Homo sapiens: one gene and its partner. The protein of the gene in region 1 interacts with the protein of each later gene in a biochemical or structural test. Each region holds a gene or a part of one and is shown on either strand. Other genes may lie near its edges.

The links. The genes of interacting proteins can lie anywhere in the genome.
Region 2: the proteins of MAP1B (region 1) and HTR6 form a complex in vitro, tested with the Homo sapiens proteins (one study listed by BioGRID).

What each region holds. Positions count from the first base shown.
Region 1 is NC_000005.10:72,194,446-72,201,476, forward strand, and holds part of MAP1B (microtubule-associated protein 1B), read left to right. Parts: coding exon 1-5,922; intron 5,923-7,031. UniProt on the Homo sapiens protein: Facilitates tyrosination of alpha-tubulin in neuronal microtubules. Phosphorylated MAP1B is required for proper microtubule dynamics and plays a role in the cytoskeletal changes that accompany neuronal differentiation and neurite extension.
Region 2 is NC_000001.11:19,674,875-19,681,497, forward strand, and holds the end of HTR6 (5-hydroxytryptamine receptor 6), read left to right. Parts: intron 1-3,692; coding exon 3,693-3,851; intron 3,852-4,044; coding exon 4,045-4,494; 3' UTR 4,495-6,092; downstream 6,093-6,623. UniProt on the Homo sapiens protein: G-protein coupled receptor for 5-hydroxytryptamine (serotonin), a biogenic hormone that functions as a neurotransmitter, a hormone and a mitogen. Also has a high affinity for tricyclic psychotropic drugs.

The DNA of each region.
Region 1 (7,031 bases):
ATCTCAAAAATCCAGAGCCAAACATCAAGATGAAGAGAAGCATAGAAGAAGCCTGCTTCACTCTCCAGTACCTAAACAAATTGTCCATGAAACCAGAACCTCTGTTTAGAAGTGTAGGCAATACTATTGATCCTGTCATTCTTTTCCAAAAAATGGGAGTAGGTAAACTTGAGATGTATGTGCTTAATCCAGTCAAGAGCAGCAAGGAAATGCAGTATTTTATGCAGCAGTGGACTGGTACCAACAAAGACAAGGCTGAATTCATTCTGCCTAATGGTCAAGAAGTAGATCTCCCGATTTCCTACTTAACTTCAGTCTCATCTTTGATTGTGTGGCATCCAGCAAACCCTGCGGAGAAAATCATCCGAGTCCTGTTTCCTGGGAACAGCACCCAGTACAACATCCTGGAAGGGTTGGAAAAGCTCAAACATCTAGACTTTCTGAAGCAGCCACTGGCCACCCAAAAGGATCTCACTGGCCAGGTGCCCACTCCTGTGGTGAAACAAACAAAACTGAAACAGAGGGCTGATAGCCGAGAAAGTCTGAAGCCAGCCGCAAAACCACTTCCTAGCAAATCCGTGCGCAAGGAGTCAAAAGAAGAAACCCCTGAGGTCACAAAAGTGAATCACGTGGAAAAGCCACCCAAAGTTGAAAGCAAAGAAAAGGTAATGGTGAAAAAAGACAAGCCAATAAAAACAGAGACCAAACCTTCAGTGACTGAAAAGGAGGTTCCCAGCAAAGAAGAGCCATCTCCAGTGAAAGCCGAGGTGGCTGAGAAGCAAGCCACAGATGTCAAACCCAAAGCTGCCAAGGAGAAGACGGTGAAAAAGGAAACAAAGGTAAAGCCTGAAGACAAGAAAGAGGAGAAAGAAAAGCCAAAGAAAGAAGTGGCTAAAAAGGAGGACAAAACACCTATCAAGAAGGAGGAAAAACCAAAAAAGGAAGAGGTGAAAAAAGAAGTCAAAAAAGAGATCAAGAAAGAAGAGAAAAAAGAACCCAAGAAAGAGGTTAAGAAAGAAACACCGCCAAAGGAAGTCAAGAAGGAAGTTAAGAAGGAAGAGAAGAAGGAAGTGAAAAAGGAAGAAAAGGAACCCAAAAAAGAAATTAAGAAGCTCCCTAAAGACGCAAAGAAATCATCTACTCCTCTGTCTGAAGCAAAAAAACCAGCTGCTTTAAAACCAAAAGTACCCAAGAAGGAAGAGTCTGTCAAGAAAGATTCTGTTGCTGCCGGAAAGCCAAAGGAGAAGGGGAAAATAAAAGTCATTAAGAAGGAAGGCAAGGCCGCAGAGGCTGTCGCTGCAGCTGTCGGCACTGGAGCCACCACAGCAGCTGTCATGGCGGCAGCTGGAATAGCAGCCATTGGCCCTGCCAAAGAACTCGAAGCTGAGAGGTCCCTTATGTCATCTCCTGAGGATCTAACCAAGGACTTTGAAGAGTTAAAGGCTGAAGAGGTCGATGTAACAAAGGACATCAAGCCTCAGCTGGAGCTAATCGAAGACGAAGAGAAACTGAAGGAAACTGAGCCAGTCGAAGCCTACGTCATCCAGAAGGAGAGAGAAGTCACCAAAGGTCCTGCCGAGTCCCCTGATGAGGGAATCACTACCACTGAAGGGGAGGGCGAATGTGAACAGACACCTGAGGAGCTGGAGCCCGTCGAGAAGCAGGGAGTAGACGACATTGAAAAATTTGAAGATGAAGGAGCCGGTTTTGAAGAATCTTCAGAGACTGGAGACTATGAAGAGAAGGCAGAAACTGAGGAGGCTGAGGAGCCAGAAGAGGATGGGGAGGAACACGTATGTGTGAGCGCCTCCAAGCACAGCCCCACTGAGGATGAGGAAAGTGCCAAGGCGGAGGCTGATGCATACATCAGGGAGAAGAGGGAGTCTGTGGCCAGTGGGGATGACCGAGCCGAAGAAGACATGGATGAGGCCATTGAGAAAGGAGAGGCTGAACAATCTGAAGAGGAGGCTGATGAGGAGGACAAAGCTGAAGATGCCAGAGAGGAGGAATATGAGCCGGAAAAAATGGAAGCTGAAGACTATGTGATGGCTGTGGTCGACAAGGCTGCAGAGGCTGGTGGTGCCGAGGAGCAGTATGGATTCCTCACCACACCAACCAAGCAACTAGGAGCCCAGTCTCCTGGCCGAGAACCTGCATCTTCAATTCATGATGAGACTTTACCTGGAGGCTCAGAGAGCGAGGCCACCGCTTCTGATGAGGAGAATCGAGAAGACCAGCCTGAGGAATTCACTGCCACCTCTGGCTACACTCAGTCTACTATTGAGATATCCAGTGAGCCCACCCCCATGGATGAGATGTCTACCCCTCGAGACGTGATGAGTGATGAGACCAACAATGAAGAGACGGAGTCCCCTTCTCAGGAATTCGTAAATATCACCAAATATGAATCTTCATTGTATTCTCAGGAATACTCTAAACCTGCTGATGTTACACCGCTCAACGGATTTTCTGAAGGATCAAAAACAGATGCCACTGATGGCAAGGATTACAATGCTTCAGCCTCTACCATATCACCACCCTCTTCCATGGAGGAAGACAAATTCAGCAGATCTGCTTTACGTGATGCTTACTGCTCTGAAGTGAAAGCCAGCACCACTTTGGACATCAAAGATAGCATCTCAGCTGTTTCAAGTGAAAAGGTCAGCCCATCGAAGAGCCCGTCCCTGAGTCCATCTCCACCATCACCCTTAGAAAAGACCCCCCTGGGTGAACGTAGTGTGAACTTCTCTCTGACGCCCAATGAGATTAAAGTCTCTGCAGAGGCAGAAGTAGCCCCGGTGTCTCCTGAGGTGACCCAAGAAGTAGTTGAAGAACATTGTGCTAGTCCTGAGGACAAGACTCTGGAAGTGGTGTCACCATCTCAGTCCGTGACTGGCAGTGCTGGTCACACACCTTACTATCAATCTCCTACTGACGAGAAATCCAGTCATCTCCCTACAGAAGTCATTGAAAAACCACCAGCAGTTCCAGTGAGTTTTGAATTCAGTGATGCCAAAGATGAGAATGAAAGGGCTTCAGTAAGCCCCATGGATGAGCCCGTGCCTGACTCAGAGTCTCCTATTGAAAAAGTTTTGTCTCCTTTACGCAGCCCGCCCCTCATTGGATCCGAGTCTGCTTATGAAAGTTTTCTAAGTGCTGATGACAAGGCTTCTGGCAGAGGTGCCGAAAGTCCTTTTGAAGAAAAGAGTGGAAAACAAGGCTCTCCAGACCAAGTAAGTCCAGTTTCTGAAATGACTTCTACTAGTCTTTACCAAGACAAACAGGAAGGGAAAAGCACAGACTTTGCACCAATAAAAGAAGACTTTGGCCAAGAAAAGAAAACTGATGATGTTGAAGCCATGAGTTCTCAACCAGCACTGGCTCTGGATGAAAGGAAATTAGGAGATGTTTCTCCCACACAAATAGATGTCAGTCAGTTTGGATCTTTTAAAGAAGACACTAAGATGTCCATTTCTGAAGGTACTGTCTCAGACAAGTCAGCTACTCCTGTTGATGAGGGCGTAGCAGAAGACACGTACTCTCATATGGAGGGTGTGGCCTCAGTGTCCACAGCCTCAGTGGCTACGAGCTCATTTCCAGAGCCAACAACAGATGATGTGTCTCCATCTCTGCATGCTGAGGTTGGCTCCCCACATTCCACAGAAGTAGATGACTCCCTTTCAGTGTCTGTTGTGCAAACACCTACCACATTCCAGGAAACAGAAATGTCTCCATCTAAAGAAGAATGCCCAAGACCGATGTCAATTTCTCCACCAGATTTCTCCCCTAAAACTGCAAAGTCCAGGACACCCGTTCAAGATCACAGATCTGAACAGTCCTCAATGTCTATTGAATTTGGCCAAGAATCTCCTGAGCAATCCCTTGCTATGGACTTCAGTCGACAGTCTCCAGATCACCCTACAGTGGGTGCAGGCGTGCTTCACATCACTGAAAATGGGCCAACTGAAGTGGACTACAGTCCTTCTGACATGCAGGACTCCAGTTTATCACATAAGATACCACCTATGGAGGAGCCGTCCTACACCCAAGATAATGATCTTTCTGAGCTCATCTCAGTATCTCAGGTAGAGGCCTCCCCGTCCACCTCTTCTGCTCATACCCCTTCTCAGATCGCTTCTCCTCTCCAAGAAGATACTCTATCCGATGTTGCTCCTCCCAGAGATATGTCCTTATATGCCTCACTCACCTCTGAAAAAGTGCAAAGTCTGGAAGGAGAGAAGCTCTCTCCAAAATCTGATATCTCTCCACTCACCCCACGAGAGTCCTCTCCTTTATATTCACCTACTTTTTCAGATTCTACCTCTGCAGTCAAAGAGAAAACAGCAACTTGCCACAGTTCCTCTTCTCCACCAATAGATGCAGCATCCGCAGAGCCCTATGGCTTCCGTGCCTCAGTGTTATTCGATACAATGCAACACCATCTAGCCTTGAATAGAGATTTGTCCACACCTGGCCTGGAGAAGGACAGTGGAGGGAAGACACCTGGTGACTTTAGCTATGCCTATCAAAAGCCTGAGGAAACAACCAGGTCCCCAGATGAAGAAGATTATGACTATGAGTCTTATGAGAAGACCACCCGGACCTCAGATGTGGGTGGCTATTACTATGAGAAGATAGAGAGAACCACAAAATCTCCAAGTGACAGTGGCTACTCCTATGAGACCATTGGGAAAACTACCAAGACCCCTGAAGATGGTGACTATTCCTATGAAATTATTGAGAAGACCACACGGACCCCTGAAGAGGGTGGGTACTCATATGACATAAGTGAAAAGACCACCAGCCCCCCCGAAGTGAGTGGTTACAGCTATGAAAAGACTGAGAGGTCTAGAAGGCTTCTGGATGACATCAGCAATGGCTATGATGACTCTGAGGATGGTGGCCACACACTTGGGGACCCCAGCTACTCTTATGAAACCACTGAGAAAATTACCAGTTTCCCTGAGTCTGAAGGTTATTCCTATGAGACATCTACAAAGACAACACGAACCCCTGATACTTCCACATACTGTTACGAGACTGCAGAGAAAATCACTAGAACCCCTCAGGCATCCACATATTCCTACGAGACTTCAGACCTATGCTACACTGCAGAAAAGAAGTCCCCCTCAGAAGCCCGTCAGGATGTCGATTTATGCCTCGTGTCCTCTTGTGAATACAAGCACCCCAAGACAGAGCTTTCACCCTCTTTCATTAATCCCAATCCTCTTGAGTGGTTTGCCAGTGAAGAACCCACTGAAGAATCTGAAAAGCCCCTCACTCAATCAGGGGGAGCCCCACCGCCTCCAGGAGGAAAGCAACAGGGCCGACAGTGTGATGAAACCCCTCCCACCTCAGTCAGCGAGTCAGCCCCATCCCAGACCGACTCTGATGTTCCCCCGGAGACTGAAGAGTGCCCCTCCATCACGGCCGATGCCAATATCGACTCTGAAGACGAGTCGGAAACCATCCCCACAGACAAAACTGTCACGTACAAACACATGGACCCACCTCCAGCTCCCGTGCAAGACCGCAGCCCTTCGCCACGCCACCCTGATGTGTCCATGGTGGACCCAGAGGCCTTGGCCATTGAGCAGAACCTGGGCAAAGCTCTAAAGAAAGATCTGAAAGAGAAGACCAAAACCAAAAAGCCAGGTACAAAGACCAAGTCATCTTCACCTGTCAAAAAGAGTGATGGGAAGTCTAAGCCCTTGGCAGCTTCACCAAAACCAGCGGGCTTGAAAGAATCCTCGGATAAAGTGTCCAGGGTGGCTTCTCCTAAGAAGAAAGAATCTGTGGAAAAGGCAGCAAAACCCACCACCACTCCTGAGGTCAAAGCTGCACGTGGGGAAGAGAAAGACAAGGAGACCAAGAATGCTGCCAATGCCTCTGCATCCAAGTCGGCCAAGACCGCCACTGCAGGTAGGTTGAGAAGGCTGGGCATTGGATATATGTCACAACCATTCTACTTGCGTTTACAGCCTTTATATTTCCCTGTTTGGCTTTGTACTGGGAAGATGAGGGAGCACAATTGATGCTTTACCTTCCCTGTACTCTTCTCCTCTGCCCAAAGGTATATATCTCAGTCCAGTGTGGCCTTAAGGCTTGGAAATAGCTCAGTGTATGGTTCAAAGCAGCTGTGATTCATCACTGGGATTCCTGATTTTGTGCCGTTTTCGAACACAGCAACTACAGCCCTGTTCTAAATCTTCAGAACCAAGGATGTGTCTTTCAGGTGCTTCTGGAAGACTGGTTTCAGCCATACTGGCCTCAGAATCCAGCAGGGTAACACAGGCCAGGAGCTCCCAAAGGCCTAAGGAGAACCAGAGGTTTCACATCAAGACTGGATCAACCAGTCTAGACCCAAGATTTAGAGTCCTTTTTTAAAAAAAATTTTTTTTAAATTAAAAATGTTTACATTTTTATTTAAAACATCACCAGGTTGGAGATAAATCCTCATTAAAGGCAGTGTTCCATTTTCTTATCAGCCAAAAAATACTATAATTTCAGTTGACCAGTGAGTGTCCGGTGAAAATTGAGAGAAAAACATTGATGGCTCTGCTCTTACCCTTCTCTTACCCCATGGCCTCATTAGTAGAGACTCAATGCTATTTCAGATTAAAATTCCACTGGGAAGCTAGATGCATGGCCTCATGCCTGTAATTTCAGCACTTTGGGAGGCTGAGATGGAAGGTTAGCTTCAGCCCAGGAAGTTGAGACCAGCCTGTGCAACATAGCAAGACCCTGTCTCCACAAAAAAAAAAAAATGTTTTTTAATTAGCTGGGTGTGGTGGCACGTGCTTATAGTCTTAGCTACTTGGGAGGCTGAGGCAGGAGGATCACTTCAGCCCAAGAGATCAAGGCTGCAGTGAGCCAGAATTGTATGTATCACTGCATGCCAAGCCTGGGTGACAGAGCAAGACCCTGTCTCTCAAAAATAAATAAATAAGCAAATGAAATGCCACTTGGCAAGAGCAGGTATCCCTGATTTTTGATCATTCATGTTTTTGGTCATGATTCTCAGATTTATC
Region 2 (6,623 bases), on another chromosome or scaffold:
AGGAAGCTGCCCTCTGACACTGATACAGAAGGGAGATGCAAACGACAGGACATGGCCCCAAGGGGCTGCGAGGTGCTTATGGGGGAGAGAGAATCCAGAAGGGTGATGCCAGCATCAGCCAGATGCCGGGGTGTGGACTAGTGACAGCCATTGGCTTCTGCTCCATGAGGGCCTCTTGCTGACAGTGGTGGGGTTTCTGTAACCCCACCTGACTGGGCCCATGGATGCCGTCTCCAAAGGTGGAAGCAGCTTGGTGAAGTGGGCAGAGTGGTGTTCCTGAGGCCAGAAATGATGGAATCCCTAACTCAACTCTTAACTGCTGTGTGACTTCTGGCAAGTCATTTTGCCTCTCCGAGCCTCAGTTGTCTCATCTGCAAAATGGGGATGACAATGCCTACCTCTCATAAAGACTGAATGACCTAATGACTATCAAATGCTGATGTGTAGTAAGTGCTCGAGAAATGGGGATGATAATGCTGATTTGTTCAGGGCCACTCAGGTTTTGGTTGGAGGCCTTGTACTGGAACAGTGTGACCTTGGGAAGGGTAGAGTGTCCTCTACCCTTTCTGAGCCTCAGTTTCCTTCTCTCTTTCCTCTTCCCTGTGTTCTTGAGTCAACTCTCTGGAAAGCAGAGGAGAAAGAAAAACCTGGAGTTGTTCCCAGGGAGACTAGAAAGGGAATCTCAGTTCATCTTCACCCCATTCTCTGGAGCTCCTTCCCCCAATGATTGACCTGAGATATTCCCCCTAGTGCCTCAGTTTCCCCCATGCCCTAGAGCTGTGATAAGATCAGGGCTACCTCCTCTCCCCTGCCCTCCTCAGGTCACTAAGGGTCAGAGCGATGCCTGGATGAGACAGTGTCTCATCCCTCTCCATGCCGTCTATTCCCATTGATGGCAGCAATTTGAAGGTGTGGCAGGTCTTAGGAGATTCTTTTGGGGAAGCAGGAGCCTCTTCCTCCAGGCTGACCATGGTGTGGTCACAAAAGCCATATAGAGTCCACTCTGGAGGAGAGAAAACTAGAAGAGGAGAGAGGAGAGTAAAACCCTCTTTTACTCCCTTGCTAACTTGGAATGACTTTGGAGCAGACTCGTGTATGATGGGGTGGAGTCGGAGGAGAGCATCCTCTAGTCATAGCATCTGAGCCGCAGCGTGGTGACTCAGAGCATTTGTCTTGGTGTCTGTGCTGCTTTGGGGAGGCCAGAGCTGCTGGCAGAAGGACAGGCTCCCCAACAGTGCTCAAAATCACCCCAACCTCACAACACATATCACTGAAACAGCAACATGGCTACCAGGTATTTAGCACCTACTCAACGTCAGACTCTGTGCATGCATTTATTATCCATAGCTTCACAGCGACGCCGTAAGCTGAGTATCATTTCTCCCATTTTGCAGATGTGGAAACAGAGGCTCTCTCAAGATCACAGAGCGAGTAAGTGGTAGAGGCCACTTTGATTTGAAGCCAGATCACCTGTCTTAAAAGCCCAGGTTTTGCCTCTGTACAATGCTGTCTCACCAAGACAGAAGGGAGAAACCAAGGCCTCTGTTGTGAATTTGTATAACCTTGATATTTGTACAACCAGATTTCATGTGAAGAAACACGTTGAGGGGTGGGGATTACGATGTGCTTCGTCTCCCTGCCCCAGCAACCTCCTTGCCATTTCAGAATTAGAATTCCAGCTTCTATGAAAAGACCGCGTGTAGTTGGGGTTTCAGCACCATGGACAAGACACCAACTCTGGAGGCCTAGAAAGAGCCGGGGCTGGAGGAGAGGGCATGCGCAGCAGAGTGGGGTGGGGTGTTGGCTTTGGTGCTCCCTGGAGTTGACACATCTTGGCTTTGCCTCCTCCGCCTTTCCATCTGCGGAAGGTTGCCTGGGAATCTGGCTCTGCTCCTGCCTCCTTCTGACCTCATCTCCCCATATCCAACCCACCTCTGGCCTCGAGAACTAAGCAGGGCTCTCACGCAATTTAGGAACTGGACAAATCCCAGTGCCGGGAAAATCCCTGGCTGTCAAAGCCCAGATGTATTCACAGACCGCAAACACACCCTTTGCGTAGCTCATGATGAATTGTGCACACCACTGCCCACGGGCATTAAATAGTAAATAGAGGTGGGCCTAATTTTGTGTAAATCTAATATATGAAAATCCACGTTGATTACAGAAACACATGGTTTAGAGGAGGGCTTCACATCCCAGCTTTCACGGACTCCTAGGGGTTTCTGGTGGAAACCTAGAGACTTCAAGGTCATCTCTGAACCTTCTGGAAGTGTGAAACGTTGTTTTCTTGTCTGTGTGTGTGTGTGTAAAAATTTACAAGCCTTTTATTTTCTGGGGAGAGGTTTGTGTGTGTGTGTGTGTGTGTGTGAGATTTCATTAGATTTTCAAAAGGCTCATGAAGTTTAACAAGTGAAGAGCACTGCTGAGCTAAAGAATGATCCAGCTCAGAGAGCCCTTTGGGACTGTGGGGGCCAGTTTGCAAAGTCAAATTCTAACCTCCCCGGGCCCATGCCTTCCTTTCAGTGGCTGCTGGGAAGTAGCTTCTTTCTCTTCCTCCCTCCTACCCCTTCCTCCTCTTCCTGTCCACTTTTGAGAATGGAGATGCCTGCCAGTTCGCAGTATAATTGAGCTATAAAATGCCAAGGTAACCAGCATCCTTAGGAGCCTATTAAGAGATTTAGCTGCAAACATTGGCTCTGTGCACACATTCTCAAAAAAGCCTTTCTATTTTGTGGGGCTCAAGAGTAATTGCCCAGGCAAGACTATTGCTCCCAAATGTGAAGACAATCCACATACAAAGCAATTGCCAAGCTCTGGACAGTAACAGGTCCTCTTTTTCAAGTACTGTTCAATTGCAATTGATTTTGTGTGTGTCTGTGTGTGTGACAGAGTCTCGCTCTGTCACCCAGGCTTGGAGTGCAGTGATGTGAGCTTGGCACACTGCAACCTCCACCTCCTGGGTTCAAGCAATTCTCCTGCCTCAGTCTCCTGAGTAGCTGGGATTACAGGTGCCTGCCACCACGCCTGGCTAATTTTTGTATTTTTAGTAGAGGCAAGGTTTCACCCTGTTGGCCAGGCTGGTCTCAAACTCCTGACCTCAAGTGATCTGCCTGCCTCGGCCTCCCAAAGTGCTGGGATTACAGGCGTGAGCCACTGTGCCCAGTCAATTGCAATTGATTTCTGTAGCGCTAAAGGCTTTGGAAGGTGCTGGGCTCATTGTAATGTGTGTGTTGGCCTGTGTCACGTATTGTCTTTGCAGGGATGGTTGTTCTTCTGAACCATCTGATTTGTGTTTCAGGTATTGCTCTGTCTCACTGCACTTCCTAGAGCTCCTTATGAAATTCTGGGTCAGGGTCAGGGCTCAGTGTGGGACCAGGATCAGAGCTCAGTCTAGGTCCACAGTTGAGGCTTGGTTTGAGAACTTGGTTATGTAGGGCTTTATGGTAGGTGTCAGGGTTCAGTGGGGGGCCAAGGTCAGGGCTTGGTTTATTGCTGATGTCAGGGCTTGGCCTGGAGTCAGGGTCAGGGCTCAGTCTAGGACTCTAGTTGGGACTCAGTCAAGGAACAGGGCCCAGTTTAATCCTGGCACTAGGGCTCAGTCTAGAATTAGGATTGAAGCTCAGTCTGTGGCTAGGATCAGGGTCAGACGGGGGCCCTTTCTCAACGGACTCATGTGGCCTTCCTTTCCGCAGGTGCCCAGGACCCCACGCCCAGGGGTGGAGTCTGCTGACAGCAGGCGTCTAGCCACGAAGCACAGCAGGAAGGCCCTGAAGGCCAGCCTGACGCTGGGCATCCTGCTGGGCATGTTCTTTGTGACCTGGTTGCCCTTCTTTGTGGCCAACATAGTCCAGGTAATGCCACGGCAGGGGGCAGGTGAGTCCGGCCCTTGCAGGAGAGGCCCTGGATCCCAGCCCAGGCATGGGGACAGGGGAGGGTAGGCTGCCTCTCGTGGTGCGTGTGTGTGTGTGTCTGCTCCATACATGCTGGGAAGGGTGGCCTGGGTCCCTGCCCTGGGACCAGGCATGATGCATCCCCTCCCCCCAGGCCGTGTGCGACTGCATCTCCCCAGGCCTCTTCGATGTCCTCACATGGCTGGGTTACTGTAACAGCACCATGAACCCCATCATCTACCCACTCTTCATGCGGGACTTCAAGCGGGCGCTGGGCAGGTTCCTGCCATGTCCACGCTGTCCCCGGGAGCGCCAGGCCAGCCTGGCCTCGCCATCACTGCGCACCTCTCACAGCGGCCCCCGGCCCGGCCTTAGCCTACAGCAGGTGCTGCCGCTGCCCCTGCCGCCGGACTCAGATTCGGACTCAGACGCAGGCTCAGGCGGCTCCTCGGGCCTGCGGCTCACGGCCCAGCTGCTGCTTCCTGGCGAGGCCACCCAGGACCCCCCGCTGCCCACCAGGGCCGCTGCCGCCGTCAATTTCTTCAACATCGACCCCGCGGAGCCCGAGCTGCGGCCGCATCCACTTGGCATCCCCACGAACTGACCCGGGCTTGGGGCTGGCCAATGGGGAGCTGGATTGAGCAGAACCCAGACCCTGAGTCCTTGGGCCAGCTCTTGGCTAAGACCAGGAGGCTGCAAGTCTCCTAGAAGCCCTCTGAGCTCCAGAGGGGTGCGCAGAGCTGACCCCCTGCTGCCATCTCCAGGCCCCTTACCTGCAGGGATCATAGCTGACTCAGATATCGTGTTCTGAAGGATGCTCCACTGTTGAGTGTAACTTGTGTGTGCAGAGGATGGGCTGGAGGACTCTGGATGTTGGGGAGAAGGACCTCTTGGTTCAGGTTAGGATGAAAACAATCATGACCTTTGCCCATTCTGTCAGGCTGGACGGGAGGGAATGCCCCCACCTGCAGGCATGGATTAATGCTGGGCTGAACCCCTTGCTACTCACAGTGTAGTCCATGGACAATCGGCATTGCCGTCACCTTTGGGAGTTTGTGAAAAATGCACATCTCTGCCCCTGCCCAGACCTGCTGAGTCAGAACTGCATGTTACCAAGATCCCAGGTGAATCATGTGCCCATTACAGTTTGAGATGTGCTGCCTTAGATCATCTTTAACCCTCAGAATGATTTGCTGGATGGTTTTTGGACCTGTCAGTCTCCCCTCCCTGGTATATATGTGGCAGCAGCTGCACCTGGGAGGCAGGCAGGCATGCATGTGGGCCTCTGCTCTACCACCTATGAGCTCTGGGGCCTGACACGAGTTATTTAACCTCTCCGAGCCTCGGTTATCCCATGTGTAAGGTAGAGAAATGATGCCTATCTTGCAGGTTGTCTTGAGAATTAAGACAATGTGTGCCCAGCACCCAGTACACGGTCAGTTAATTGGTACGTTCTGTTGTTACGACCCCCGGCTATCCAGCCCCCTGGCCTCTCCGGCTGTGTGTCAGGAAGGGCTCTTTGCTCCCGTTGTTCTCTTTCCATTTGCCTCCCCCTCTTCAGCCCTGGCCTAGCCTCCCAAAGCCTGACTCTGGTTCCCCAACTCCCTGTTCTGGCTCCTGGGTGGGGACCCCATCTCTCAGGGACCCTCCCAGCTCCCAAGCTGCTGCCCTGCCTTTCCTGGGGGCAAAAGGGGCAGGTGGCAGTTTCTTTTTCAGCCTCAGAACTGGTTTTCCTCAATCCTGGGGGGTCCTTGGACCTAGAAGGGAACAACTGATGGGGATAAACCCAGCCCCTTGCCCACCTGCCTCTGGCCTTCCCTGGGGTCAGTGAGAGAAATGGGAATGGTAGCTACTTGGGTCAGCAGAGTAGAGTCAAAGAGCTGTTCCTGGTGTGAGGTGGGGCCCACGAGGCAGGCAGGTGGACTCTGGCACAGGGGCCTTGGTTTCTGGGGGCAGGGGGTTGGGGAACTCTTGGTCGCCAGTTTACCTGCCATAGGTCCCTTTTCAGCCCTGCCTCCCCCAAGTTCCATCAACACAAACTCCCAGGGGGTCCTCCATGCCTGGCCTGGCCCTCTCCTTGGTGCTGATGAGACACAACTCTGGCCCCGGCGGCTGGCCTCTGAGGGGCCATGGTGCTTGCGGGGCTTCCCCTATCCCCCAGGTCTGCCCAAGGGGACTCTCAATAAACTCTAGCTGAAGGCAGTGGCTGTGGTGTGGACTGGATTCAACTGAGGGGCCACTCGGGGCTTGAGAAGCAGCTGGTGTCGTGGGGAGGCCTGGGTGTAGGTGTCCTGGGTTCTGGTCCAGATTCTGCCCCTTCAATCTGGGACCCCAGAAAAATCCTTTCCCCTTTCAGAGCCTCCATTTCCCATGTATGACATGAGCAGCTTAGTTTAAAAGCAACAAGAGTTGCATAAATACTTGTTTTTAAATTTTGTGTTTTAAGAGTTGGAGTTGGCTGGGCATGGTGGCTCATGCCTGTAATCCCAGCACTTTGGAAGGCTGAGGTGGGTGGATCATCTGAGGTCAGGAGTTGGAGACCAGTATGGCCAATATGGTGAAACCCCATCTCTACTAAAAATACAAAAAATTAGCTAGGCGTGGTGGCAAGTGCCTTAATCCCAGCTACTCAGGAGGCTGAGGCAGGAGAATCCCTTGAACCTGGCAGGTGGAGGTTGCAGTGAGCTGAGATCATGCCATTGCACTCTAGCCTGGTGACAAGACAAGACTCCG